Linked DNA regions of Homo sapiens. The protein of the gene in region 1 interacts with the protein of each later gene in a biochemical or structural test. Each region holds a gene or a part of one and is shown in the gene's direction. Other genes may lie near its edges. The genes, in order: MARK4, ODF2, RPTOR and MAP2.

Evidence for each region.
Region 2: of the proteins of MARK4 (region 1) and ODF2, one has a biochemical effect on the other in vitro, tested with the Homo sapiens proteins (one study listed by BioGRID).
Region 3: of the proteins of MARK4 (region 1) and RPTOR, one has a biochemical effect on the other in vitro, tested with the Homo sapiens proteins (one study listed by BioGRID).
Region 4: of the proteins of MARK4 (region 1) and MAP2, one has a biochemical effect on the other in vitro, tested with the Homo sapiens proteins (one study listed by BioGRID).

The regions. Positions count from the first base shown.
Region 1 is NC_000019.10:45,296,259-45,303,282, forward strand, and holds part of MARK4 (MAP/microtubule affinity-regulating kinase 4), read left to right. Parts: intron 1-1,417; coding exon 1,418-1,696; intron 1,697-1,884; coding exon of another isoform or gene 1,885-1,964; intron 1,965-3,552; coding exon 3,553-3,597; intron 3,598-6,115; coding exon 6,116-6,452; 3' UTR 6,453-7,024. UniProt on the Homo sapiens protein: Serine/threonine-protein kinase. Phosphorylates the microtubule-associated protein MAPT/TAU. Also phosphorylates the microtubule-associated proteins MAP2 and MAP4.
Region 2 is NC_000009.12:128,479,999-128,487,022, forward strand, and holds part of ODF2 (outer dense fiber protein 2), read left to right. Parts: intron 1-214; exon of another isoform or gene 215-818; intron 819-1,581; coding exon 1,582-1,653; intron 1,654-2,817; coding exon 2,818-2,889; intron 2,890-3,939; coding exon 3,940-4,056; intron 4,057-4,702; coding exon 4,703-4,888; intron 4,889-5,366; coding exon 5,367-5,476; intron 5,477-7,024. UniProt on the Homo sapiens protein: Seems to be a major component of sperm tail outer dense fibers (ODF).
Region 3 is NC_000017.11:80,890,815-80,897,838, forward strand, and holds part of RPTOR (regulatory-associated protein of mTOR), read left to right. Parts: exon of another isoform or gene 1-905; coding exon 906-1,023; exon of another isoform or gene 1,024-1,357; intron 1,358-1,914; coding exon 1,915-2,055; intron 2,056-2,892; coding exon 2,893-3,051; intron 3,052-7,024. UniProt on the Homo sapiens protein: Component of the mechanistic target of rapamycin complex 1 (mTORC1), an evolutionarily conserved central nutrient sensor that stimulates anabolic reactions and macromolecule biosynthesis to promote cellular biomass generation and growth.
Region 4 is NC_000002.12:209,693,046-209,700,069, forward strand, and holds part of MAP2 (microtubule-associated protein 2), read left to right. Parts: coding exon 1-3,305; intron 3,306-3,496; coding exon 3,497-3,703; intron 3,704-3,871; coding exon 3,872-4,006; intron 4,007-7,024. UniProt on the Homo sapiens protein: The exact function of MAP2 is unknown but MAPs may stabilize the microtubules against depolymerization. They also seem to have a stiffening effect on microtubules.

The DNA.
Region 1 (7,024 bases):
AAAAAGTATAGACTCAGCTAGCTGCTGTAATAAAAACAAAGAGATCCCAGGGTAGAGTAATTTAAATAAAAAGGACGTTTAGTCCGGAGGGTCCTCCAAGGACCCAGGTAAGTTCTTCCAGCCCCAAAATGAGTTTCCAGCTCTGGGACTGAGGCCGCTGCACCAGCAGCCATCATTTCCCAATCAGGAAGAAGTGGGGAAAGAGTAGGGGACAAGCAACAACTCTTTGTAAAGGCGTCACCCAGAGATGGTACAGAGCACTTCTGCTTATATCCCATTGGCCGGAGCATGGTCACATAACCATCTCTAGCTGCAAGAGAGTCTGGGAAATGTAGTCTCTGGCTGGGTGGCCATGTGCAGTGCTCATACTCTTAGGGGTTTGGTTACCAAGAACGAAACAGGGAGGATGGATTCTAAGGGAGAAGTAACAGCCTCTGCCACAATCAGGATTCTTCTCTGAGATCCAGGCTGGGCCTGGAGTCCCTGGGAGGATAGAAATTGGAGGTCTGGGCTGGGCGCAGTGGCTCACACCTGGAATCCCAGCACTTTGGGAGGCCAAGGCCAGTGGATCACCTGAGGTGAGGAGTTTGAGACCAGCCTGGCCAACATGGTGAAACCCCATCTCTCCTGAAAATACATAAACTACCCAGGCGTGGTGCTGCATGCCTATAGTCCCAGCTACTCAGGAGGCTGAGGCAGGAGAATCACTTGAACCCAGGAGGCAGAGGTTGCAGTAGCCAAGATTGCCCCATGGCCCTTCAGCCTAGGTGACAGAGTGAGACTCTGTCTCAAAAAAAAAAAAAAAAAAAATTAGCCAGGCATGGTGGCACACGCTTGTAATCCCAGCTACTCAGGAGGGTGAGGCAGGAGAATTGAACTCAGGAGATGGAGGTCTGGCCCCTGCTGTCGACTAGGAGGGTCCGAGGGGCTGGAGGAGGGTCCTGGGACAGTGGAACCCCCACTGCCCAGATTACCATAGTGAATACAGGTATCCTTGACCTTTACATCTATCCCTTTCCTGATTTTAGATGGTGAGAGTTCAGATAGCAAAGTGTTTGCCAAGTTGATTTGGTTCCTGAGGTTTCGGCAAATAGCAAGGAAGTCACCCAAAAATGTCTGTGCATCTATTCAGTTGCTGCGTTTAGAGAGAGGAGAGTTGTGATAGGAGATGATTTGGAGCGGGTAGAGTTTGAAGAAGGGACAGTTTGAAGGAGGGGTAATAGGAGAGGAGAGAGTCAGTAAAATAATGCTAGGATTGTATAGTGCACAGCCTGCACAACTGTACGTTGCAGCCCTGTCTCTGAGTTCCAGGCTGGTTGCAGTCCCTGGTCTCAGGACAGGAATGTGAAGAATCAAAGGGACTGGGGCCCTGGCCTGCCTCAGTCCCCCACCCTGACTTGTCTGTCTCTGCCCACAGCTCAGGCACCCCACGGGTGCCCCCTGCCTCCCCCTCCAGTCACAGCCTGGCACCCCCATCAGGGGAGCGGAGCCGCCTGGCACGTGGTTCCACCATCCGCAGCACCTTCCATGGTGGCCAGGTCCGGGACCGGCGGGCAGGGGGTGGGGGTGGTGGGGGTGTGCAGAATGGGCCCCCTGCCTCTCCCACACTGGCCCATGAGGCTGCACCCCTGCCCGCCGGGCGGCCCCGCCCCACCACCAACCTCTTCACCAAGCTGACCTCCAAACTGACCCGAAGGTGAGCTCCGCGGGGATGGCAGGGGCAGGGCGGGGCGGGGGGCCGATGGGACCTAACCTGTCTTCCACTCTGCTCTGTCTCCTGTACCCCAACATTTCCTCTTCCTCCTCCTCCTCCTCCTCGTTTCCTCCTCCTCCTCCTCCTTTCCTCCTCCCCTGTCACCCCTCACCTCCCTCCTCACACTGCAGGGTTACCCTCGATCCCTCTAAACGGCAGAACTCTAACCGCTGTGTTTCGGGCGCCTCTCTGCCCCAGGGATCCAAGATCAGTAAGTCCCGTCCATGCCCTGTTCTCGCTGGCTCTGCCTCCCTGCCTGCATGTCTGACCTGTGTGTGCGGGCATTGGGAGGGGGCTCTGTGGATGTGAGGGTCTGTGCGTGGGGTCTGGTTGTTCATTTACTCACAGAAGCACAGCCTATGGAGCCAGACTCGGGGGTTCAAATGGCAGCTCTGCCAAGTGACCTTGAGCAAGTCACTCAAGGTCTCTGGGCCTGGTTTTCCTCTTCTGTAAAATGGGTATAGTAATAACAATACCTGTCTCCTAGGGTTATTGTGAGGACTAAATGAAGTGACGTATGGACTGAGCGTAGAACATTGCCTTGGAAAGTGCTTTACATGTGTATTAGTTATTAATTGCTATTATTCATTGAGCCCCTACTGTGTGCCTGGCACTGTCCTAGGCCCTGTAGTAGAGGGTGAGCAAAATGTACAAAACTCCTGCCCTGGCAGACCCAACATTCTACTAAGGGATCTAGACAAAAAACAAAGAAATAAGTAAAATATACTTACTATATAGACTGCTAGGTAGTGCGAAGTAACTAAGAAGAAAAATAGAGTAGGAGCCAAATTTGGTGGCTTATGCTTGTAATCACAGCACTTTGGGAGGCTGAGGCGAGGGGATCACTTGAGCCCAGAAGTTCAAGACCAGCCTGGACAACGTAGCAAGATCCTATCTCTACAAAAAAGTAAATAAATTGGCCGGGCGTGGTGACTGCACCTGTATTCCCATGGAATTGGGAGGCCGAGGCAGGAGGATCACTTGAACGCAGGAGGTCAAGGCTGCTGTGAGCTATGATCATCAGTCTTGGCAACAGAGGGAGAACCTGTCTCTAAAAAAAAAAAAAAAAAAAAAAAAAATTGAACAGGGAGGGGAATAAGGGGTGTGGGGAAGGGATGGGGTGCAGCATTAAATGGGCAGGCCTCTGGATGAGGTGGCTCAGGCCAGCAATCCCAGCACTTTGGACAGATGACTTGAGTCCAGGAGTTTGAGACCAGCCTGGGCAATGTGGCAAAGCCCCATCTCTACAAAACAAAACAAAAAACAAAAAGCAGATGTGGCACGCGCCTGTAGTCCCAGCTACTTCAGGGGCCAAGGCAGGAAGATTGCTTGAGCCTGGGAGGTTGAGGCTGCAGCGAGCTGAGATCACGCCACTCCTGCATGACAGAGTGAGACTCTGTCTCAAAAAAAGAAAAAAGGGCAGGCCTCACGAAGGAGGTGTTGTTTGAGCAAAGCATGAATGTATATGTGAGCGAGGGAGTGTGTGTGTGTGCACACGTGCGTGTGTCTCTCTCTTTCTCTCTGTGGCCACTTATCTATGTAAGGGTGTGTCTCTGCCCACTCCCCTCCCTTTCATCTTCCACATTCTTCAGTATCTTTCCTGTGACCTGCACTAACCATTTCAGAATGAGCCCCGTTATGGGGATGGACAAGGAGATCAAATCCTGACTCCAGGCCCTCACCAGCCCGGAGGGACTGGGGTTGAGGCAGGGGCTGCTTGGAGTCCCAGAGGCAGTGGGTTGCGGGAGGTGGGTTCCCTATGTCCAGATTAGACACTCTGTCCCCCTCCCCTCCCCTAGGGTCGCAGACGAACCTGAGAGAATCGGGGGACCTGAGGTCACAAGGTGAGTGCTTGGGCCTACCCCTGACTGCCACTTCCCCTCTCCTGCCTCAGCACCTCCCGACACTTACCCCAGGGCATTAGATGGGGCCCCAGTCTCATCCTGCAAGGCCAACTTCCTGAAATGCCCTGTGGCCCCAGCCTTCTCTGCCAGCTCCTCTCATTCCCACCCAACCCCAAGCACCTTCCCTTGATCATCTTAAACTTCAGCCTCCGGCTGGGTGCCATGGCCCAAGCCTGTAATCCCAGCACTTTGGGAGTCCAAGGGAGGCAGATCACCTGAGGTCGGGAGTTTGAGACCAGCCTAAGATGGAGAAACCCCGTCGTTACTAAAAATACAAAAATTAGCCGGGCGTAGTGGCGCATGCCTGTAATCCCAACTACTCGGGAGGCTGAGGCAGGAGAATCGCTTGAACCCGGGAGGCAGAGGTTGCGGTGAGCTGGATTGTGCCATCGCACTCCAGCCTGGGTAGCAAGAGTGAAACTCCGTCTGAAAAAAAAAAAAAAAAAAAAAAAAAAGCCTCATCCCATCCACAACTCAACTCCTCTTCTGGTCAATGCCCCCACCTCCTTTTGCCTCTCATCCAGTCATGGCACAATGTTTGCTGGCAGCTCAGGGCCAGCAGGAGGCAAACATCTGTACGGACCCAGATCATGAAGATTTTAGGCTTTGAGGGCCAGGCACCCTGTGTCACGCCTGTTCAGTTGTGCCATTGTAGTGCAAAAGCAGTCATATTCAACACAAAACAAATGGGTATGGCAGTGTTCCAATGAAACTTTATTTACAAAAGCAGACAGCACTGGAGTTTGCCAAGCCCTGGTTTTGTCTGAGTTCCCGGTTTAGAGACCCAAGTGGAAACCGGAGCCTTCCCAGCAGCTGCAACAAACTGCCAGGGCTGACTCTCATTGGTTGGGACTTGGTCACATGCTCATTCCTAAACCAATGCCTGCAGCCAGAGAGGAGAAGTACTCTGGTTGGTCAGACCTGGTCATGTGGTCACCCTTGACCCAAGCACAGTGGCCGGGAAGTAGAATGCTATCATTGGCAGAGCTGAGTCGTGCTCACCCAAGCTGAGGGGCGGCCCCACCGGAACAAGGGAGGCTAGTCCTGGGATGCTCATGTAGAGCAGCACTCTCGTACTTCAGGCGGGACGTTTCTTTGTTGTGCAGGGCCCTCTTGCACATTGGAGAATGTTTTTCATTCCTGACCTACCCCATCCCCAACCTAGTCAGTGCCAGCAGTGCTCCCATCCTAAGACATGTGACAATCAAAAAGCCCCCAGAGGCCGAGCACAGTGGCTTATGCCTGTAATTCCAACAACTCAGGAGGCCAAGGCAGGAGGATCACTTGAGCCCAGGAGGTCGAGGCTGCAGTGAGCTGTGATTGCACTACTGCATTGCAAGACCCTGTCTCAAAAAAACTAAGAAGTGGCCGGGCACTGTGGCTCTCGCCTGTAATCCCAGCACTTTGGGAGGCCAAGGCAGGTGGATCACCTGAGGCCGGGAGTTTAAGACCTGCCTGCCCAACATGGTGAGACTCCGTCTCTACTAAAAATACAAAAATTAGCTGGCCGTGGTGCCTGTTCTCCCAGCTACTTGGGAAGCTGAGGCAGGAGAATTGCTTGAACCCGGGAAGCAGAGGTTGCAGTGGGCCAAGATTGTGTCATTGCCTTCCAGCCTGGGCGACAAGAGCGAAACTCTGTCTCAAAAAAAAAAAAAAAAAAAAAAGCCGGGCGCAGTGGCTCACACCTGTAATCCCAGCACTTTGGGAGGTCGAGGCGGGCAGATCACAAGGTCAGGAGATCGAGACCATCCTGGCTGACACGGTGAAACCGTGTCTCTACTAAAAATACAAAAATTAGCTGGGGCCAGGCGTGGTGGCGCGTGCCTGTAATCCCAACTACTCAGGAGGCTATGGCAGGAGAATCGCTTCAACCCAGGAGGCGGAGGTTGTGGTGAGCCGAGATCGTTCCATTGCACTCCAGCCTGGGTAACAAGAGCAAAACTCCGTCTCAAAAAAAAAAAAAAAAAGAAAAGGAAAAAGAAATTTCTCATTCAAACATTCAAACCATGTGGCCAAGCCAGGCTGGTAAGGCCACTGTGATCTATGCGGTCATTCAGGTCCCCAGGTTATTGCATCCCGATTCCCTGGAGCCCTTGTCATCTTCACAGTTGAGGCTGGCCTGTGCCACTGCTAAGTCCAGCTCCTGGGAGATGTGGGACAGGAGAGCCTGGCACATGCAGGTTCTTTGAAGGAACTGATGTGGATGGCACATCTCACTTCTGCTCATGTCCCAGAATTTACAGACAAGGTCACACCTGGTTGCAAGGGAGGCTGGAAAGTGTGGTCTCTAGCTGGGCAGCTCTGTATCCAGTTGAAACTGTCGCTGGGGTAACAGGGGAAGATGTTTTTTGAGGGGATGGCTAGGAATGTGTCCCGAATTGGGAAGAGTTGTCCCTTCAGCCCTCCACCACATTCCTCTTCGCTCCCATCTCTGACCCCTGACATCTTCTCGCCTCAGTTGCCATCTACCTTGGGATCAAACGGAAACCGCCCCCCGGCTGCTCCGATTCCCCTGGAGTGTGAAGCTGACCAGCTCGCGCCCTCCTGAGGCCCTGATGGCAGCTCTGCGCCAGGCCACAGCAGCCGCCCGCTGCCGCTGCCGCCAGCCACAGCCGTTCCTGCTGGCCTGCCTGCACGGGGGTGCGGGCGGGCCCGAGCCCCTGTCCCACTTCGAAGTGGAGGTCTGCCAGCTGCCCCGGCCAGGCTTGCGGGGAGTTCTCTTCCGCCGTGTGGCGGGCACCGCCCTGGCCTTCCGCACCCTCGTCACCCGCATCTCCAACGACCTCGAGCTCTGAGCCACCACGGTCCCAGGGCCCTTACTCTTCCTCTCCCTTGTCGCCTTCACTTCTACAGGAGGGGAAGGGGCCAGGGAGGGGATTCTCCCTTTATCATCACCTCAGTTTCCCTGAATTATATTTGGGGGCAAAGATTGTCCCCTCTGCTGTTCTCTGGGGCCGCTCAGCACAGAAGAAGGATGAGGGGGCTCAGCGGGGGGAGCTGGCACCTTCCTGGAGCCTCCAGCCAGTCCTGTCCTCCCTCGCCCTACCAAGAGGGCACCTGAGGAGACTTTGGGGACAGGGCAGGGGCAGGGAGGGAAACTGAGGAAATCTTCCATTCCTCCCAACAGCTCAAAATTAGGCCTTGGGCAGGGGCAGGGAGAGCTGCTGAGCCTAAAGACTGGAGAATCTGGGGGACTGGGAGTGGGGGTCAGAGAGGCAGATTCCTTCCCCTCCCGTCCCCTCACGCTCAAACCCCCACTTCCTGCCCCAGGCTGGCGCGGGGCACTTTGTACAAATCCTTGTAAATACCCCACACCCTCCCCTCTGCAAAGGTCTCTTGAGGAGCTGCCGCTGTCACCTACGGTTTT
Region 2 (7,024 bases), on another chromosome or scaffold:
GTGGTCCCAGCTACTGAGGAGGCTGAGGTGGGAGGATCACTTGAGTCCAGGATATCAAGGTTGCAGTGAGCTATGATCCATGATTACAACATGCACTCCAGCTTGGGTGACAGAGCTAGACTGTGTCTCTAAAAGAAATAAAAAGGTTAAAATGACAAGTTTTATGTTACATATATTTTACCACAATTTTTAAAAGTTAATAATGGAATATACCAAAGCCATTTAATTGTATACTTTATTTTTTCTTCTAGCTTTATTGAGGTATATTTGACAAACAGAAGTAGTATACATTTTAAGATGTTCATCGTGATGATTTGATACCCATATACATTGTAAAGTGACCACCTCAATCAAGCTGATTAACACATCCATCACGTCACATGGTTACCTTTTTGTGTGTGTGTGGTGACAACACTTAAGATCTCCTAGCAGATTTCAAGTATATAATACATCATTAATTATAGTCACCATGCTGTACACTTTAAATGGTGTTCAAATTTATATCTCAATAAAGCTGTTTTTAAAAATCAAGTAACAGCTGGGCATGGTGGCTCACGCCTGTAATCCCAGCACTTTGGGAGGCCAAGGCGGGCAGATCACCTGAGGTCAGGAGTTTGAGACCAGCCTGGCTAACATGGTGAAACCCTGTCTCTGCTAAAAATACAAAAATTAGCCGGGCGTGGTGGCAGTTATCTGTAATCCCAGCTACTCGGGAGGCTGAGGCAGGAGAATCGCTTGAACCTGGGAGGCAGAGGTTGCAGTGAGCCGAGATCGTGCCATCGCACTCCAGCCTGGGGGACAAGAGCGAGACTTCCTCTCTAAAAAATAAAAAAAATTAAAAAAAATTAACACATAAATACAATATGATATTATTTTCCTAAAGTTACACATGAATCCCTTTCCCCTTCCCCCAGAGACAAACAGTATTTCTCTTGATGCAGCAAAATGCTGTTTCATTACAGAGAAACAGTATTTCAATACAGTATTCTGTACAGTATTTTCAATACAGAGAAATACAGTATTTCTCTGTAGATGTAGAGAAAAAGGATGGGAAGGATACTCCTCAAACTAATAGCAGTAGGGTAGGGTTTGGAGGTGGGTACAGGAGGAACTGTAGCTTTATTAGCATTCACTATTTTATAGTGAGAATATATTCACATTACTTTTCAAATTAGAACTACAGTTTTTTGGGCCAGGTGTGGTGGCTCACACCTGTAATCCCAGCACTTGGGGAGGCCAAAGCAGGCAGATTGTTTGAACCCAGGAGTTCAAGACCAGCCTGGGCAAACAGGGAGACCCTCCAACTCTACAAATAATAATAATGTTTAAAAAGTTGGGCATGGTAGTGCATGCTTGTTGTTCCAGCTACTTTGGAGGCTGAGATGGGAGGATGGCTTGAGCCCAGAAGGACCAGGCTGCAGTGAGCCATGATTGCACCACTGCACTCCAGCCTGGGCAACAGAGTAAGACTCTAAAAAAAAAAAAAAATACAATTTTTGGAAAAGGTAAAGAATCAATAAAATGTAGACATCTGGGTTTATTGCTTAATGACTTGACTTTTTCCTTTGCCTTTCTTTGAAGGATTCTGAAAGACTAATGGAGCAACAAGGAGCACTGCTGAAACGGCTGGCGGAGGCCGACTCAGAGAAAGCGGTAACTAAGGCTGCCCTTGTCTACTCTAGTGGGTACAGGTGGCAAGAGCGTCGTTCCACTACAAAGTGTAGAGGTGCTTGGATCAAGGCAGGAGGGCTGGAGCATTTCGCTAGGTCTTAGTTTCACGATCTGTAAAATGGGCTGATGTCCTCCTGTCACGCTTGTTCTGATAGGCTTGTCTAGTTAGTTACTTGAGACCTTGAGCCACAAAGCTGGACACCAACATAGAGAGGGTAATGATGATGTTGGATTTGTAAATCATCCGTGTCTGTTAAAGCTGGATTTCCATCAAATTAGTATTATGGATTCAAAGCCATCAAAAAGTACACACCTTTGGACTCAGTAATCCTAATTCTAGGAATCTCTCCCAAAGCAGCATGTTCCAAAGTCTGTTCATGGAACCCTAAGTTCCTCAAGATGTTAATGAGTGCAAGAAACCGAAGGGGAGGTTCCATAGCCAGTTAAATTTGGGAAACCATAGGCTGGCCTGAACATGAAGTTCAACAGCTTCTTTCAAGACTTTTTTGGAGTGTCTGCTGTATTAATGCTTTTGTAAGTCTCCAAGAGAGGGGAGGGAGACGGAGGCCCAGTTTCCCAAGGTGTGGTCTGTGGCCTCTGATGCTTAGTTGAGGAAGGAGTGGAGATGCAGCAAGCTCGGCGATAATGCCTAAATGTGCATTCCCAGCTCAAGAACCCTTGTTAAGTTATGATATACATCAGTAACTTGAACCGTCAAGCAGCTCTTTCAAAAGACACAGAAGATTTAATCACATTATGGTAAACATGAGCTTTTAGGCTATGGAACGAAGTAGGCATATGACTTTTTTTTTTTAACGGTGCTGAGCATATGAGTTTCAATGTGCATTAACTGGTTATCTCTGCATGGGGGGTTACGGGGTTTCTTTGGAGGATTTTTTTGGTGTGTTCTCAATGTTTTCTACAGTTAACATTGCTGTTCTTAAATTGCAAAATAAATACATGTTCATTGTTTTAAAAAAATGTTTTAATGCATATGTTAGGTGCTTCCTACCAGAATCTCTGACATGGGCCAATGTATGTAGGACCTTGGGCCCCAGTGGCCAGGTACTCACAAATCTCTGTCCTCCCTGGGCCGGGCCTCTTTGCCCTTCCCAGGGGCACCTGACAGCCTGTGTTCTCTCCCAGCGCCTGCTGTTACTGCTGCAAGACAAGGACAAGGAGGTGGAAGAGCTCCTTCAGGAAATACAATGTGAGAAGGTAGTGTGCTTTTTTTTTTTTTTTTTTTAGACGGAGTCTCGCTCTGTCGCCAGGCTGGAGTGCAATGGCGCGATCTCAGCTCGCTGCAACCTCTGCCTCCCGGATTTGAGTGATTCTCCTGCCTCAGCCTCCCGAGTAGCTGGGACTACAGGCGTGCGCCACCACGCCCAGCTAATTTTTGTATTTTTAGTAGAGACGGGGTTTCACCATGTTGGCCAGGATGGTCTTGATCTCTTGACCTCGTGATCTGCCTGCCTCGGCCTCCCAAAGTGCTGGATTACAGGCATGAGCCACTGCGCCCAGCCGCAGTTGTGCATTTTTATGAGCCAGTAGAATATAATGGATATGCAGAGAGCTGGGTTCAAATCCTGTCTTTGGGCCGGGTGCAGTAGCTCATGTCTGGCACTTTTTCGAGACCAGCCTAGGCCACTCCCTAGCACTTTGGGAGGCCAATGCAGGAGGACTCATTGAGGCCAGGAGTTTGAGACTGTCCTGGGCAACACAGGGAGACCCCATCTCTACAAAATTAAAATTAAAATTAAAAAATCAGCCAGGTGTGGTGGCATGCACCTGTAGTTCCAGCTACTCTGGATGCTGAGATGGGAGGATCACTTGAGCCTGGGAGACTGAGGCTGCAATGAGTCATGGTCACGCCACTGCACTCCAGCCTTGGCAACAGTGATACCCTGTCTCAAAAAAAAAAAAAAAAATTATTGACCATGCGCGGTGGCTCACGCCTGTAATCCCAGCACTTTGGGAGGCCGAGGCAGGTGGATCACTTGAGGTCAGGAGATCGAGACCAGTCTGGCCAACATGGTGAAACCCTGTCTCTACTAAAAATACAAAAAACTAGCCGGTTTTGATGGCACGTGACTGTAACCCCAGCTACTCAGGAGGCTGAGGCGGGAGAATCGCTGGAGCCCAAGAGGTGGAGGTTGCAGTGAGCTGAGATTGCGCCACTGCACTCCAGCCTGGGAAACGGAGCAAGACTCCGTATGAAAAAAACAAACAAAAAATTGTGCCTCCATCACTTTTTCCGTCTCTCCACAGGCTCAAGCAAAGACAGCCTCTGAGCTTTCTAAATCCATGGAGTCCATGCGTGGGCATTTGCAGGCACAGCTTCGGTCCAAAGAGGCTGAGAACAGTCGCCTGTGCATGCAGATTAAGGTACCTATTGGCCCCACAAGTGGGGAAAGAGGAGGCAAGGGCCTGCCAATTTGATGGTAGCGGCCTGGCCCAGATATCACACTCAGGAAGTGTGCCTCCAAAGGTTTCTGAGGCAGCTGATGACAAAATACTCAGGCCTCAGAGACATTCCAGGACAGTGGCAAGAGCAATGGACAGAGACCCAGGAGGTGTTGGGCATCCTTCCCAACAGTGACGGGGTTGCGTGCCATGCCCCCCAGGCCTATCACTTAATCCCCTAGGCCCTCAGTTCTCCTCATTACCCAAGGGAAAGGGATGGTCTCTTTGTAGCCCAGGGGTCCTCTGAGGTCATACTCTGCTGAGTGACCAAGGAACTATCTCTGACCACAAGGCTGGGAGTTCAGGGAAGGATTCCAGAGCAGTTCTGACCTAATATCAAGACCCCATGGGCTGAGAGATCCAGGGAGGTGTCGTGGGGAGCTGGGAGGGACTGTGTCTCTGGTCCGAGTTAGGGGAGCCTCTCACACAGCTAAGCACTTTTTTCTGTCTTCCTCGTTTCCTCTTTGCTCTTGCCTTTTCCTCCCTTTCTCCTTCACCCTCTGCTTTGCCTTCCCACAACCTCCTTGTCTCTCTTCTCCCTCTCTTTCTCACCCCTTCCCCCTTCCAGAATCTGGAGCGCAGCGGGAATCAGCATAAGGCAGAAGTGGAGGCCATCATGGAGCAGCTGAAGGAGTTGAAGCAGAAGGGAGACCGAGACAAAGAGAGCTTGAAGAAGGCCATCCGAGCCCAGAAGGAGCGAGCCGAGAAGAGCGAGGAGTATGCTGAGCAGCTACACGTGCAACTCGCTGACAAGGTCGCAGGCCCGCGGTGCCCAGCTCCTCACCTGCCCTGAGGAGGGCTGGGTGATGGCAGAGGGGTGGTCAGCCAGATGGGTAGCGGGGAGGGGTGGGTGGATGAGGGATGGTAGTGGTGGAAAGGATAGATGGCTGGGGAGGAGGGAGAGGGAGTTAAGGGGATCAAATGGGTAAAAGCTGGAGGGATGGGTGGCTGGAGATGATTGGAGGCTTTGTAGGAGAGTTCAGCCACATCAGCTTTGTGGGTGAGAATAATGGTTAAGGAAGGATTTACAAACAGGATGCATTTGATTGCTAGAAATCTGGGAGCACTAGCTGGGCTCCCACTGTTGCTTCCAGCGCCCTCTAGAAAGGTGAATTCCAGAATGAGGTTTAGGTTACCAGGGTGAGAAACCACCTAGGATGAGCCCGCTCCCAGCTCCTGGCAGCCTCACCACTGACACTAGGCTAACAGGCCCTTTTGTCCCGTGTTCCCAGGATCTTTATGTCGCTGAAGCTTTATCCACTCTGGAATCCTGGAGGAGCCGCTACAACCAAGTTGTAAAAGAAAAGGGAGACCTTGAGCTGGAAATTATTGTCCTGAATGAGTACGTCTTAGAGTAGGAGAGGGAATGTGGCGCTGTTGAGGGACTTGGGTGTGCAGGTGGGAGGGGCCTAGTGGCTCAGGGAAGGCCACGTGGCTGCTGTTTGTACTCTCCGGGTTGGGGGCTGCACTGGGCTGTGATGTGGGTAGCCCTGAGCTGGGCTTTCTGGTTGGAGCTGGGGTGCAAGCTCTGGCCCTAGTCCTGGGGTCCTACCCTACTGTCAGGCACTGGCTAGGGGCCGGGTCTTTCTGGTCAGAGGTGTGGGTCTGACTTCATCACCTGGGCCTGATCCTGTCCTCAGTCTACACAGCATTTGAAATGGGCACCGTGGTGTCCTCATTCCTATTGGGGAATGGGGCAGATGGTGACCCGAGTGTCTTCTCTCTGTTGTCTGTCCAGGGACAGCAGCTGTTTGCCAGTGCCTGCCAGTCAGTAGGTCAGTGGTATGGCATGGGAGTAGGGGGCAAAAGTGGCCTCAATTTGCAAGTGACTGAGCTGACACCTTTCTTGCCACTGGCGAACTGTGAATAGTGACCATTCCATCATTCTCCTTTTTTCCTTCATTTATTGGAAAAACATATATTGAGCATCTACCATATACCAAGCTGCTGTGTGCTGGCCACCAGGGTTACAGCAGTAAGAAGACAAATGCATTCCCTGCCCTCTACTCTGTAGAGGAGATAGGGCTACAAGAGGCATGGACTCCCTGGACTAAGGATAGGTCATGGGGGAGCTCATTTAATCTCCCAGGTCAGGAAAGTCTCTTACTGTATTCAACTCAACTTAGCAAACATGTTCTGAGAACTCACTATGTGCCAGGCTCTATGCCAGCTGCTGTCCTTAGGGAGTTCTCTGTCTAGTGGGAGAACATAGATACCTAAGACAGAAGCATACATGGTACAGGGGAGGGGTCAGGGACAAGATGTCTTGAAGTCTGAACTGGGTTTTTAAGTGTGAGTAGGAGTTTGCCAGGTAAACTGGAGTTGCCAGCAAACTGATATGTTTGCTTGGGCCTAGTCAGTGTTCAGTGGTGGACTGTAATTGGTCAATACTGAGAGCACATATTGTGCAAAGGGTTTTTGATGGGTCTGTGGTCAAGATAGAGGAGTAAGCACCTGTGAGCCCCAGGGCTCCTCTTGAGGCCACAGTCTCTGCTCTTTGACTGATGATGGCCTTGCTGAGTGACTGAGGCAGCAGCAGGGAGCAGAAGGGACTGGGGGTGGGGCAGGCAGCTGGCTTCTAAGTTGGCGTCTTTCTATTTGTGCCTTTTTCCCACACCACACTCATTGCCGTTCCTGCCTGTGTTAGGTGAGTGTTCATATGTGAATGAGCAATCATGGCACCAGCCCCCTGCTGGGGGTACAAAAGCCCAGGGTGCTCAGGGCCCTGCTGGAGAGGAATGCCTGGGTGATAATCCCTGACCACCAGCCTGGGAGTCCAAGAAGGGATTCCAGAAGCGTCTGTCCTAACACCAAGACCTGATAGGCAGAGAGATTCCAGGAGGTGTCATAGGGAGTTGGGAAGGGATCATGTCTCTGGTCCTTGCCTTCA
Region 3 (7,024 bases), on another chromosome or scaffold:
AGAGAGTGCGTAGACGGAGAGTGGGGTGGCCACGAGAAGACCCTGGTCCCTGGTGGGCGCCCATCCAGAGCCTGCTCATCCAGCCGCTGTGGAGACAGGGGCGTCACGCGACTAGCAAGGGGTCCTCTCACAGCGCTTGGCTTTCTGCTAAGAATCCGTATTTTTTCTTTTCAGAAAAAAAAAAGGCAGAAAAAGTTGTCGTAGGGAAAAAAACGTTCTTTCCGCTTTTTAAACCTACATCCCCCTTCTGTTCCCCAGTGACTTCTAGGATCTCCAGCTGTTCCTGTCACAGCACTGAACTGTCCTAAAAGAGAGGCAAATTGTGTCTGTTCCCTTGGACCAAGGCATTTGGTCCTAAAGATGATGTTTTAGTTCTACAACTTTTCCCGTTCCCTCTTAGGGACTAGAAACATCTACCAATGAAAGTTTCACATGTGTTGAAAAGAGCAGGCTTCGGCTTGTCCGCTGCACTCGGCCCTGGGGCGCTCAGATTCAGAAAGGCCGCCAGCCATCGGGTGTGATCTAGAGCGGCGTTTTCAGCCAGGGTCCCAGTGGTCACCGTAAGCGAGAGGCTGTGAGGCCTCCTACCTTTCCCTCTCTGGAGTCCTGTGACTCACCGTGTCCTTACGAGACCCCCGATGCGTCGTGCGCCTCTAGCAGTGGGGAGGATTCTGGCAGGCATTCTGGGCTTCCCCCGTGAGCCAGTGGCCTGCCGTCTCCCAGCACTCTGCTATTCCAAGGCCTCTGCTCTGACGGTTCGAAAAGGGATGGTCCCTGTTTCTGATGCCAATTGCACGGTTTTGTCTTAACCTTTCTTTTTTCTGTTGGTGACTCAAGTCTCACTGCTGCTCCACAATCATTTTCCAGCCCCAGTGACTGTTATTGTCCCTTCTCCCTCTCGGCAGGAGCTGGTGGTGGCTCTGAGTCATCTTGTGGTTCAGTATGAAAGCAATTTCTGCACCGTGGCCCTGCAGTTCATAGAAGAGGAAAAGAACTACGCCTTGCCTTCTCCAGCAACCACAGGTATGGCGTCTTCTCCTGTGAACCCGCAGAGCACCTCGCCTGGCGGTTCTAGTGCAGGCCGCGGCCCAGTCTTGCTCACCCTCGCAGAGTCTAAGCGCAGGTTTCTCAGATACCTGCCGCAAGGGGTCCCTGTTTTTCTCATCTTTTTAGGCACCTGCCAGATTTAAAAGGGCAGGAAAGAGGGCCACACTGACCCTCTTACATTTTTCCTTTCTTTTTACCCTTTTTGGAAATTAAACTCACAGAGACCTTGAAGTATGACAAAACTTCTGCAGTAGGAGCTTGCGGAAAAGCGCAGGGGCCGTCTTCCTGCGATGAGTAATTTCATCACACTGCTCTTGGCTCCGTGGCTCGGTGAGTCATGTCAGGCGTGCTTTCTCACACGTGTCGTTTTGACTGGAGAGTACAGTTCCTATCTCATCGCTGCCGGCAGCCCCTCCCGCTTCCACACAGCCGTCTCTGCCGTGCAGGGGCTTGTCATCAGCAGTGAGGCCTCACTGCTTCTAGGAAGCCCAGGAGGGGAGAAGGGTGAGCCAGACTGAGTGTGGACGGTCATTGCTCTGCTGCGGCTTCCCGGGGAGCACGGCTCACGGCCCACGTCACCATGCACCTCGTGTGCACTCGGACAGGCCGCAGCCACCAGCCTCTCCCCTGTTGTCTTTTGTAATTTAATATGCACAGAGCCACAAGCGGTTGTTGTTTGTCCAGTGCTATCCCGCAGAGCCTCCGCTCACGTCTGAGTCTCCCTGAGCTGTGCAGCCCCTGCTCTGACATTTGTTGCAGCACAGGTAGCAGCTGCCGTCACCGAGTGTCCCAGCTGCTGAGTGTCAGAAGACACGCTGGCCTCCACCTGGAAGCCCATTGTAATTTGTCTTTCTCCTTCTTTCCCAGAGGGAGGGAGTTTGACCCCAGTGCGAGACAGCCCGTGCACCCCCAGACTTCGTTCTGTGAGCTCCTATGGAAACATCCGTGCTGTCGCCACAGCCAGGAGCCTCAACAAATCTTTGCAGAACCTGAGTTTGACAGAGGAATGTAAGATCCTGGAAATCGGGTTATTGGATTGGGAGAGATTGGGGTTGTTTTTTCTGAAACACTGTATCTGAGTAAGCACCACTCTGCCCCTGCCCCTTCGTCTAAGTGCGTGCCCTGAAGTCCCATCTGCCAACATGGTGATGAGTCACCCTTCCAGACGTGAGCATGGCAAGGAGGCGTAGGCCAGCCCCCAGAATAGCCAGCGGGCCCGTTACCAATGCGGCAGGGAGCTCAAGCGCAGCCGCAGTTGAGGCGGTGGCTCCTTGGAGGGCTGTGCCCTGCCCCCGTCTCCCAGTAACCTGTGGTCTGCGGGTGGGGAGCTTGGCTCCCAGGGAGATCAGTGAGTGCCTGTGCCTGTGTGTGCGCCGGGGCGTGTGTGCCAGGGTGTGTGCGCCAGGGTGCGTGTGTACCAGGGTGTGTGTGCGCCGGGTGTGTGTGTGCGCCAGGTGTGTGCGCGCGCCAGGTGTGTGTGCGCCAGGGTGTGTGTGTGCTGGGTGTGTGTGCACAAGGGTGTGTGCATGCCAGGGTGTGTGTGTGTGTGTACAAGGGTGTGTGTGTGCCAGGGTGTGTGTACTGGGTGTGTATACGCGCCAGGTTGTGTCTGTACGCGCCAGGGTGTGTGCGCCAGGGTGTGTGTGTATGAGGGTGTGTGTATGTCGGGTGTGTGTACATGCCAGGGTGTGTGCGCACCAGGGTGTGTGTGTACCAGGGTGTGTTTGTGCCTGGGTGTGCTGAGCTTTATTTAGAAGAAAATATGTATCTCAGTCATGCCATTAACTGTAAGACCAAAAGGAGGGTCCCGGGAGCACCCCACTGACCCCGTTGCGTCTCGGGCAGCTGGTGGCGCGGTGGCGTTCTCCCCCGGAAACCTCAGCACCAGCAGCAGCGCCAGCAGCACCCTGGGCAGCCCCGAGAATGAGGAGCATATCCTGTCCTTCGAGACCATCGACAAGATGCGCCGCGCCAGCTCCTACTCCTCCCTCAACTCCCTCATCGGTGAGTCCGCCTGCCCCTTTCTGCTTCCGAGGGGCCCCGAGGGTCTCCTCCCCACACAGAGCAGCACAGACCTGTGTCTGCATCAGGTCAGTGGGTGTCAAAACTGTCTGTTCAAAAGAAAGAATAAAGGTCAACAGGACTGCGAGGCAGGGAGAACGTTTTGCTGGGGCAAGCGGGAAAGTTGACATCACTGTTGTGTTGGGGTAGTATTTTACAGGCTGCTCCGGAGCCATCGGAGCTGGCCAGTTTGGCTGGGTGGGAAGGCTGCCAGAACCTTCCATCTTTGTTCCATAGACGGGTGAGAGTTCTTCATGGTGCTGGACACCCTGGTGATGCAGAACGGTGGTTCTCAGCCGGGGGTGGTTTTGCCCCCCACGAGCAACTGGGGTACAGTAGGGGTGCTCCTTGTCCCAGTGGGTGAGGCCAGGAAGCTGCTCACATCCCCTGGTGCCCAGGACAGCCCCCACACAGTGTCCGCAGTGAGAGGCGGAGGGCCCTGCGGTCGGGCTGGGGGCTGTCATCCCCGCCCTGCTCACCTGCGGAATCTCCACACAACTTTCCCTCCATCCCAGCAGCTTGACGCAGCACTGCCTGGAAATGGAAATCTGACGGAAGGGTCAGATTCTTCTCTTGTTCTGCCATGAATGGTGTGTGCCTGGGTCCTACCACCAGGATTGCTGTTGTAAAACAGGAGAAGCAGGAATTCACCGTGTTTTCTTATTGTGTAGCTATGTTCATCTTCACACTGCTGGTAACAGATTTAGGGCTTAACCAAATGAGCCTCATCTCCTCTTGTTCTGACTATCCAGAGTGGCTTACCGGCTTCATTTGAATTTTTTTCATGTTAAGGAGCATTTTAGCCATGTAAAAATTTACAGAGACTTATATAAGAGCGCTGCGTGTGTGTGTGTGTGTGTTGTGTTCCCAGCTTAAGGAATTACAGAGGTCGAGCCCCAGACCCTACCCCGGTCCCATTCCCTCTGGTGACATTACACTTTCCCTCCCTGGCCATGAGCCCTGGCACACACGTGGTGCCCACTTAGAGGCCTTTACCTCCTATTGGCGCCGTCGCACGATGCGTGGCCCGCAAAGCCCGTTTCTTTGGCTCTGACTTCAATATGTATCTTTGATGGTCATCTAGGTTTTGTTCCTTCACCTCCGCGATCTGCCGTGACTCCATTATCCATTCTCCTGTCTGGGGACAGTGAGGCCGGTTCTAGTTTCTTCTTGCCTTTTGTTCCTTTTCTTAATAAGCAAACTCAGAATTCAGCCCCTGCCACCATGGAGCCCCACATCCAACACACCCTCACTCGCTGCACCCAGCTCTGCTGGGCCCCAGCCTACCCGGCCCCCAGCCTGGGCATCGGTGGGGAAGCTCTTCTCCGGCATATGGTGGCCGCTCCCCTCTCATTCAGAGCCCCCATCTGGCAGCACCTTCCCAGAAGCCTCCCCAGCCCCACGCCCCACCTGGAATCAGGCTTCCCCAGCTGCCCTCTGACCCTGCTCCCTTTTCCTGCTTTATTTTTCTCCTGAGGACTGTGGACTGCAGACGTGCTGTACGTGTAACTTGTTCATTGGCCCGGCCCATCTCTCTCCCCTGGAGCTTGAGAGCCGCACGTGCAGGAACCCAGCCTTGTTAACCACTGTCTCCTCCCACCCTGTCCACACCCAGTGCCTGGTACGCAGTAGGTGCTCAATACACATAAACGGGCACGTGTGTGGTGCGTGTTCTTCAGCGTGGATACACGTGAGTGCCTCTCGCCACCTTGCCTCAGAGTGAAGCTGCTGCGTGAACGGTGCCTGCACCTTCAGCTTTTGTAGATGTCGCCCCAGGCCTTCCACGGGATCCTCTGTTCTAAAGCGCAGGCGCCCCCATCTCGCCACTCTCTACCACGCCGGTCTTGGCCAGCCTTTGTCTGTCTGATAGACACACCTGGTGTCTCCTTGTGGCATGAATTTGCATCTGCCTTGATTGCAGTGAGGTTACAGCCTTGCAGCCTTACAGACTCGCCTTGTGTCGTTTATCTTTCTCTGAGTAGTTTGTAATCAGCATTCATCACAGTTCTGGGTGCTGATTCCTGGCTGAATATATCCATCGAAAATGCATCTAATCTATGACTTTTTATGATGCCTTTGGTGCCACACAAGCTTAATCTTTTAGTTTCTCTTTTTCTTTATAACTTGGGCCTTTTGTGTCTTGTTTTTCCTATTCTCAATGTCCTAAACATATTCTCCTACATTTTCTTCCAAGATTTAAAATTTTCCTTTTTTGTGTTCATGTCTTAAGTATATCCTGAACCACATTTTGTCTCTGTGGTGAGGTGGGGATCCAGGTTGTATTTTTTCTTTATGCCACCCCAGACCCTTCATCAGACAGCCCGTCCTCCCGCCAGTGCTTCTCAGCGTCTCCCTGGCCATCAGTCCTTAGGGTCTGAGTGGGGGCTCCATTCTTAGCAGCACCCATCCCATCCACGGCCGCGCCGACACCCCACACAGCCGCCCCGACACCCCACGCGGCCTCGCTGACACCCCACGGCCGCAGCAACACCCCACACGGCCTCGCCAACACCCCACGGCCATGCCGACACCCCACACGGCCGCACCGACACATCCCACGGCCGCACCGACACACCCCACGGCCGCACCGACACCCCGCATAGCCACCCCGGCACCCCACGGCCGCGCCGACACCCCACACAGCCGCGCCGACACCCCACACGGCCGCGCCGTCACACCACAGCTGCGGGGGCAGCACCTTTGAGCCCGCTCCTCAGTTCGTTTCTCAGAACTGTCTTGGCCGCTCTTAGCCCTTTGCTCTGCTGTATACATTTCACAGTCAGGCTTTCTGTGTCGACAGCAGCCTCACTGGGGTGTTGTTTGAATGGCGCTGAATTGGTGGATTTCCCTGGGATGACTGACTTCCTTGCATCATGAGTCTTCCTGCTCCTGAACAGGGTGTATCTTTCCATTTACTTAAGTCTTCTTTATGTCTTCAAGACAGTCTAACTTTCTGCATAAAGGTCACAGGCATGACGTTACCTTTCAGTTTTTGTAATTTTAAGTAATATCTTTTTTAAAACCTGTTGCTGGCAAAAAAAGAAAGAATGCCAGTGGGCTGGGCACGGTCCCTCACGCCTGTAATCCCAGCACTTTGGGAGGCGGAGGCCGAGACGGGCGGATCACGAGGTCAGGAGATCAAGACCATCCCGGCCAACATGGTGAAACCCTGTCTCTACTATAAAAAAATTAGCCAGGTGTGGTGGTGCGCACCTGTAGTCCCAGCTACTGGAGGAGAATCACTTGAACCGGGGAGGCGGAGGTTGCAGTGAGCGGAGATCACACCACTGCACTCCAGCCTGGCAACAGAGCAAGACTCCATCTCAAAAAAAAAAAAAAGAATGGCAGTGGACATCTGTGTTTCTCTCTTGAGAGTAAACGAAACCTTTCTAACCTTTTACCTTTGATACGACATTTGCTGTAGATTTTTTGAGTGGGTGCTCTATATCAGTTTATAGAAATTCCCTTCCCTTTGGTTCACTCTTTTTATGAGTGCAAATTCCCATTCTATTCTAGTTAGTTAAGAATTTTCCTGATAAATGGAATTAATTTCTTTGAATGTATTTTCTGCATCTCAGAATGACCCTGTGCATGGCTGTTTGTTAGGGTAGGGAATTACATGATTGAATTTCTTGTGAAATATCCTTGCATTTCTGGGGGCACCCAGCGTGGTAATGTCCCCTGACATCGCTGCCTTACGCTCACCAGCTATTTCTTTGGGCGCTCCCCATTGGCATTCACGAGTGGGTTGGGCTGTGACTTTTCTTGTCCTGACCTGGCTGGTTTAGACATTGAGTCTGTACCTGCCTAGTAAAACTGGCTCCTCCGGGCATGGTGACAGGTGCCTGTAATCCCAGCTACTTGGGAGGCTGAGGCAGGAGAGTTGCTTGAATTCGGGCAGCAGAGGTTGCAGTGA
Region 4 (7,024 bases), on another chromosome or scaffold:
GAGGGAAAAAGATGTATTTGATGATATCCCAAAATGGGAAGGGAAACAGTTTGATTCTCCCATGCCAAGTCCCTTTCAAGGGGGAAGCTTCACTCTTCCTTTAGATGTCATGAAGAATGAAATAGTTACAGAAACATCGCCCTTTGCCCCTGCCTTTTTACAGCCAGATGACAAAAAATCTCTGCAACAAACCAGTGGCCCAGCTACTGCCAAAGATAGTTTTAAAATTGAAGAGCCCCATGAGGCTAAACCTGACAAAATGGCAGAAGCACCACCCTCAGAGGCAATGACCTTACCCAAAGATGCTCACATTCCAGTTGTAGAAGAACATGTTATGGGGAAAGTTTTAGAGGAAGAAAAGGAGGCCATAAATCAAGAGACTGTGCAGCAAAGGGATACTTTCACCCCCAGTGGACAGGAACCTATACTTACTGAAAAGGAAACTGAGCTGAAGCTTGAAGAAAAAACCACCATTTCTGACAAAGAAGCTGTGCCAAAAGAGAGTAAACCCCCAAAACCTGCAGATGAAGAAATAGGCATAATTCAGACCTCCACAGAGCACACTTTCTCAGAACAGAAAGACCAAGAGCCTACCACAGATATGTTGAAACAGGACTCGTTCCCTGTAAGTTTGGAGCAAGCAGTTACAGATTCAGCCATGACCTCTAAAACACTGGAGAAAGCCATGACCGAACCATCTGCATTAATTGAAAAGAGCTCAATTCAGGAACTTTTTGAAATGAGAGTTGATGACAAAGATAAGATTGAAGGAGTTGGAGCTGCAACATCAGCTGAGCTTGATATGCCATTTTATGAAGATAAATCAGGAATGTCCAAGTACTTTGAAACATCTGCCTTGAAAGAAGAAGCAACAAAAAGCATTGAGCCAGGCAGTGATTACTATGAACTGAGTGACACTAGAGAAAGTGTCCATGAGTCTATTGATACCATGTCTCCCATGCATAAAAATGGTGACAAGGAGTTTCAAACAGGAAAAGAATCCCAGCCCAGTCCTCCAGCACAAGAAGCAGGGTACAGCACTCTCGCACAGAGTTATCCATCAGATTTACCTGAAGAACCCAGTTCTCCTCAAGAAAGAATGTTCACTATTGATCCAAAAGTGTATGGAGAGAAAAGGGACCTCCACAGTAAGAATAAGGATGATTTGACCCTTAGCAGGAGTTTAGGACTTGGTGGTAGGTCTGCAATAGAACAAAGAAGCATGTCAATCAATTTGCCGATGTCTTGCCTAGATTCCATAGCCCTTGGATTTAACTTTGGTCGGGGACATGATCTTTCTCCTCTGGCTTCCGATATTCTAACCAACACTAGTGGAAGTATGGATGAAGGGGATGATTACCTTCCAGCCACCACACCTGCACTGGAGAAAGCCCCTTGCTTCCCTGTAGAAAGCAAAGAGGAAGAACAGATAGAGAAAGTAAAAGCTACTGGAGAAGAAAGTACTCAAGCGGAGATATCATGTGAGTCTCCTTTCCTAGCCAAAGATTTTTACAAAAATGGTACTGTCATGGCACCTGACCTTCCTGAAATGCTAGATCTGGCAGGCACAAGGTCAAGATTGGCTTCTGTGAGTGCAGATGCTGAGGTTGCCAGGAGGAAATCAGTCCCATCAGAGACTGTGGTTGAGGATAGTCGTACTGGCTTGCCCCCGGTAACTGATGAAAACCATGTCATTGTAAAAACGGACAGTCAGCTCGAAGACCTGGGCTACTGTGTGTTCAATAAGTACACAGTCCCATTGCCATCACCTGTTCAAGACAGTGAGAATTTATCAGGGGAGAGTGGTACCTTTTACGAAGGCACTGATGATAAAGTTCGAAGAGATTTGGCCACAGACCTTTCACTGATTGAAGTGAAACTGGCAGCAGCCGGAAGAGTCAAAGATGAGTTCAGTGTTGACAAAGAAGCATCCGCGCATATCTCTGGTGACAAATCAGGACTGAGTAAGGAGTTTGACCAAGAGAAGAAAGCTAATGATAGGTTGGATACTGTACTAGAAAAGAGTGAAGAACATGCTGATTCAAAAGAACATGCCAAGAAAACTGAAGAGGCTGGTGATGAAATAGAAACATTCGGATTAGGAGTAACCTATGAGCAAGCTTTGGCCAAAGATTTGTCAATACCAACAGATGCATCCTCTGAGAAAGCAGAGAAGGGTCTTAGTTCAGTGCCAGAGATAGCTGAGGTAGAACCATCCAAAAAGGTGGAACAAGGTCTGGATTTTGCTGTCCAGGGTCAACTAGATGTTAAAATTAGTGACTTTGGACAGATGGCTTCAGGGCTAAACATAGATGATAGAAGGGCAACAGAGCTAAAACTTGAGGCTACACAGGACATGACCCCCTCATCCAAAGCACCGCAGGAGGCAGATGCATTTATGGGTGTTGAGTCTGGCCACATGAAAGAAGGCACTAAAGTTAGTGAGACAGAAGTCAAAGAGAAGGTGGCCAAGCCTGACTTGGTGCACCAGGAGGCTGTAGACAAGGAGGAGTCCTATGAATCTAGTGGTGAGCATGAAAGTCTCACCATGGAGTCCTTGAAAGCTGATGAGGGCAAGAAGGAAACATCTCCAGAATCATCTCTAATTCAAGATGAGATTGCCGTCAAATTGTCAGTGGAAATACCTTGCCCACCTGCTGTTTCAGAGGCTGATTTAGCCACAGATGAGAGAGCTGATGTCCAGATGGAATTTATTCAGGGGCCAAAAGAAGAAAGCAAAGAGACCCCAGATATATCCATCACGCCTTCTGATGTTGCAGAGCCATTGCATGAAACGATCGTATCTGAACCAGCAGAGATTCAGAGTGAGGAAGAAGAGATAGAAGCCCAGGGAGAATATGATAAACTGCTCTTCCGCTCAGACACCCTTCAGATAACTGACCTGGGTGTCTCAGGTGCCAGGGAGGAATTTGTGGAGACCTGCCCAAGTGAACACAAAGGAGTGATTGAGTCTGTTGTGACCATCGAGGATGATTTCATCACTGTAGTGCAAACCACAACTGATGAAGGGGAGTCAGGGTCCCACAGCGTGCGTTTTGCAGCCCTAGAGCAGCCTGAGGTGGAAAGGAGACCATCTCCTCATGATGAAGAAGAGTTTGAAGTAGAAGAGGCAGCTGAAGCCCAGGCAGAACCCAAAGATGGTTCCCCAGAGGCTCCAGCTTCCCCTGAGAGAGAAGAGGTTGCACTTTCTGAATATAAGACAGAAACCTATGACGATTACAAAGATGAGACCACCATTGACGACTCCATCATGGACGCTGACAGCCTCTGGGTGGACACTCAAGGTGTGCATTATTATTATTATTATTTTAACTCAAACACAATAACCTTATGGGAATTTTTTTTCACTTAAACATTTTAAAATACCTCTTTATCTCTTTATTTTGTATTTTGTTAAATATACAAAGGATTTTGTACACTTGTTACTAATGTTTTCACTGTTGTTGTTGTTGTCATGATTTGCTTTGATCCACAGATGATGATAGGAGCATCATGACAGAACAGTTAGAAACTATTCCTAAAGAGGAGAAAGCTGAAAAGGAAGCTCGGAGATCATCTCTTGAGAAACATAGAAAAGAAAAGCCTTTTAAAACCGGGAGAGGCAGAATTTCCACTCCTGAAAGAAAAGTAGCTAAAAAGGAACCTAGCACAGTCTCCAGAGATGAAGTGAGAAGGAAAAAAGGTTCATTTAACAATCACTTCTTTAAAAATGTTTTTGAAGTAATTCATTATTACTTTTTTGCAGAACTGCCTAACAGTGGTAACTAATTATTTATAAAATTTCGTTCGGTTTTGCTCCACGTGTTTATTTTTTCCTGATGGTATGCTTTTTGTGTTTTCTTATTCATAGCAGTTTATAAGAAGGCTGAACTTGCTAAAAAAACAGAAGTTCAGGCCCACTCTCCCTCCAGGAAATTCATTTTAAAACCTGCTATCAAATATACTAGACCAACTCATCTCTCCTGTGTTAAGCGGAAAACCACAGGTGACTGTTCAATTCTGCAATGTGACTGGCAAACATAGACATGTATTTTTTTTTTAAATCTCATTACTGTAGCAGCTTCTTCATTTTGTTTTTCTTCCAAGAATCTCAGCAGTCATGAACAATTTTGCTATTAAGTGTCTTGTATCATTATTCTTTTTTCCCCCCTCCTTACAGAAAAGGTCATGACCATCTGTTTCTTTGTCATGCTCAGACATAACAGTGCGTGATTGTATCTTGGCATTGTGCTCTAGTGTCACGTTCTGGGGATTCCTATTTTCATTCTGTGTGTTTGGTTAGACGATGGCGATGAATTTAACTGTGGTATGCATTCTCATTATTTTGCTTATTTATCTCTCTCATGCTTAAACCCATAAATATTTGTCCTATTTTCTACATTGTTACTGCCAAATCTGTTACTGATGTTGATGAATTTATTGAAAACCACCAAGAATGTGTAGTGATTTAGATACTGAAAATGAAAAGCAAGCCAGGAAGTGAAATTGTGGTTTGCAAAATTACTATTACTTTGCTTTTGCTGAAAAAAAGAAGATAGAAAACAAAATTTTCTGGTAATTATATCAGATTTTATTCCTCATATCCAAAATTAACAAGATTTTCACTCTACTGAACTACATCTCTTAGCTGACATTTTGTCATGGAGATTTCTTAAATATGTTGGATCCAAACTGCTCGACTTTTCTATATAATTTAGTTTCACAAATTTGAAGCTAAAACTCTTCCTTTTAGGAGGAACTTCAGTTAGAAATAAACTTCGGTTTATTTTTACTTTGCTGTCTACTTTTTTTTTGTTTCCCAAGACGGAATCTCGCTCTGTCGCCCAGGCTGGAGTGCAGTGGCACGACCTCGGCTCACTGAAACCTCCACCTCCTGGGTTCAAGCAGTTCTTCTGCCTCAGCCTCCGGAGTAGCTGGGATTACAGGCGTGCACCCAGCTAATTTTTTTTTTTTTTGTATTTTTAGTAGAGACGGGGTTTCACCATCTTGGCCAGGCTGGTTTTGAACTCCTGACCTCGTGATCCACCTGCCTCAGCCTCCCAAAGTGCTGGGATTACAGGCATGAGCCACTGCACCCGGCCTGCTATCTACTTATTACTCTTCTTCAAATACATATTTTTTCCTAAGTTTATAAAACTGGTAAAACAAAGGAATGAAACTTGTTGGAAACCATCATAAAAACCCCTACAAATATCTGTAATGCCAACTTTTTTCTAAATTTCAGGGCAAAGTATTTATTTTATATGTTTAATTATACTAGGATAATCTTACCTTACACTATATTTTATTTTAGCATTTATTAAGTGGCATGCTTGTAGTCTACAAAATGACAGATTGCTAAATCAGAAAAGAATGTTTTTCTTTCCATTGTACATCATCAATGCCTCTATATAAATCTTCGGATGGTTTTAAAGGTTAAGAGGAACATTAGCCTTTGTGAGAAAGAGAAAATCAAGGTAACTGATGGTTTTATTTTAGCCATTGAAAATTCCAAGTATTTTGTATTTGTGTTCTTCATCTAGAAATCATATCATGTGCTTTCCTTCAAAAACAAGAATCTAAGGCAGGATTTGAAAATAGAAGGCTTGTATATACGCACACCTTGATAAAGCTTCAGGATGAAGAATATATCTGAAGCTAGGAGTTAGGAATTAACGTGACATACCTCAATTCATTTTCTCAGGTTTTTAGCTTCATTAAACTTAGAACTTCATTAAACTTAATAGCAAATTAATAGCTTCATTAAACTTAGTAGCAAAATTGCTTGGGCAAGCAGAATCTCTTGATTTAGCATAAAAACTCTATAACCTACCTAAAAGGATGAAAGATGTCATCAGGATTGTGGAATTTTAGAGAAAACGTAAAATGGTTTAGTAAAGTGTTTACATGTCATTGGTATTCAATTTGCCACATTTAAAGTAAATTGTGTTTTTATTCATTCTTTGAAAGAAATTTAAAATCTTTGAACTAATGAAGATTTTCCTTTATTCTGGTCTAATGTTAAGATACTTTAGGAGAAAGCATGTATCAGATGTAGGTGTCATTGGTTTGAAGCAAGCTATACATGTCACAAGAATTTGAGTTATATTACAGAGATAGTAGTAAGGCATCGTTTTCACTGCTTCCTTAAAAACAATGAGTCCTAGAATCTGAAAAATCTCACTAGCTAGTCCTACATGGCATAAAGCATATTGTAGACAGTTATTATGTTTGTGTCAGAACTGTACCTGTCATAAAAATACCTTTTTAGAACTTATTCAGAGGGCTTATAAGGATACATTTTTTTTCTGAGGGTTTCTATTTTATGAATGAAAATTAAGGAGGAATAAACACACAAGCTTGATTATTTTATCTTCTAAGCCCAATTTTCAAACATAGATGGTTTTCCAAACCACAAGGGATTGTTTTAAATCATGAGAGCTAAGCTACCTCAGGTAAGTCATCAACCAAAATGTGCTAGAGATAATGGAGTTTAAAATTGAATCCAGAAGCATAAAACAGCAGCAAGAGAAACAACAGTAACAGATGTGGTAATAATTTCATACAGGAAGTGCATGTGTAGAACATGTTCTGTATTTACTGAACTTAAATTTTCTCTCGTGTTTTCTGTTCTTGACAAGCTATTTTTCTTCCCTTCTCATGTGGCATTTTCACATCAAACAAGTATGTCATTCATATTGTGAAATGAAGGGATACAAAGGGAAAGGGGTTAGCTGATCATGACAGTTTGAAATGTAAAATACCGAAATATCTATGGTTATGCCAGTGGCTTCCAGAACAAGAAGAGGGTTTGGAAATCTCTATGAACCCTCTTCTATATATCATGTGAACCCCAGAAACCAATCAGTGTTCTTTTTCTTAAATTTTGCAACATTCACATTGCTATTCTGTAACTTCTGTTCTAAAGGATCTCCTTACGTACTAGTGATTCAAAGATACATTGGTAATCAATAGAAAAATTACGTGGTGTGCTTACCTGCACTTTGGTAGACAATGGGTTATA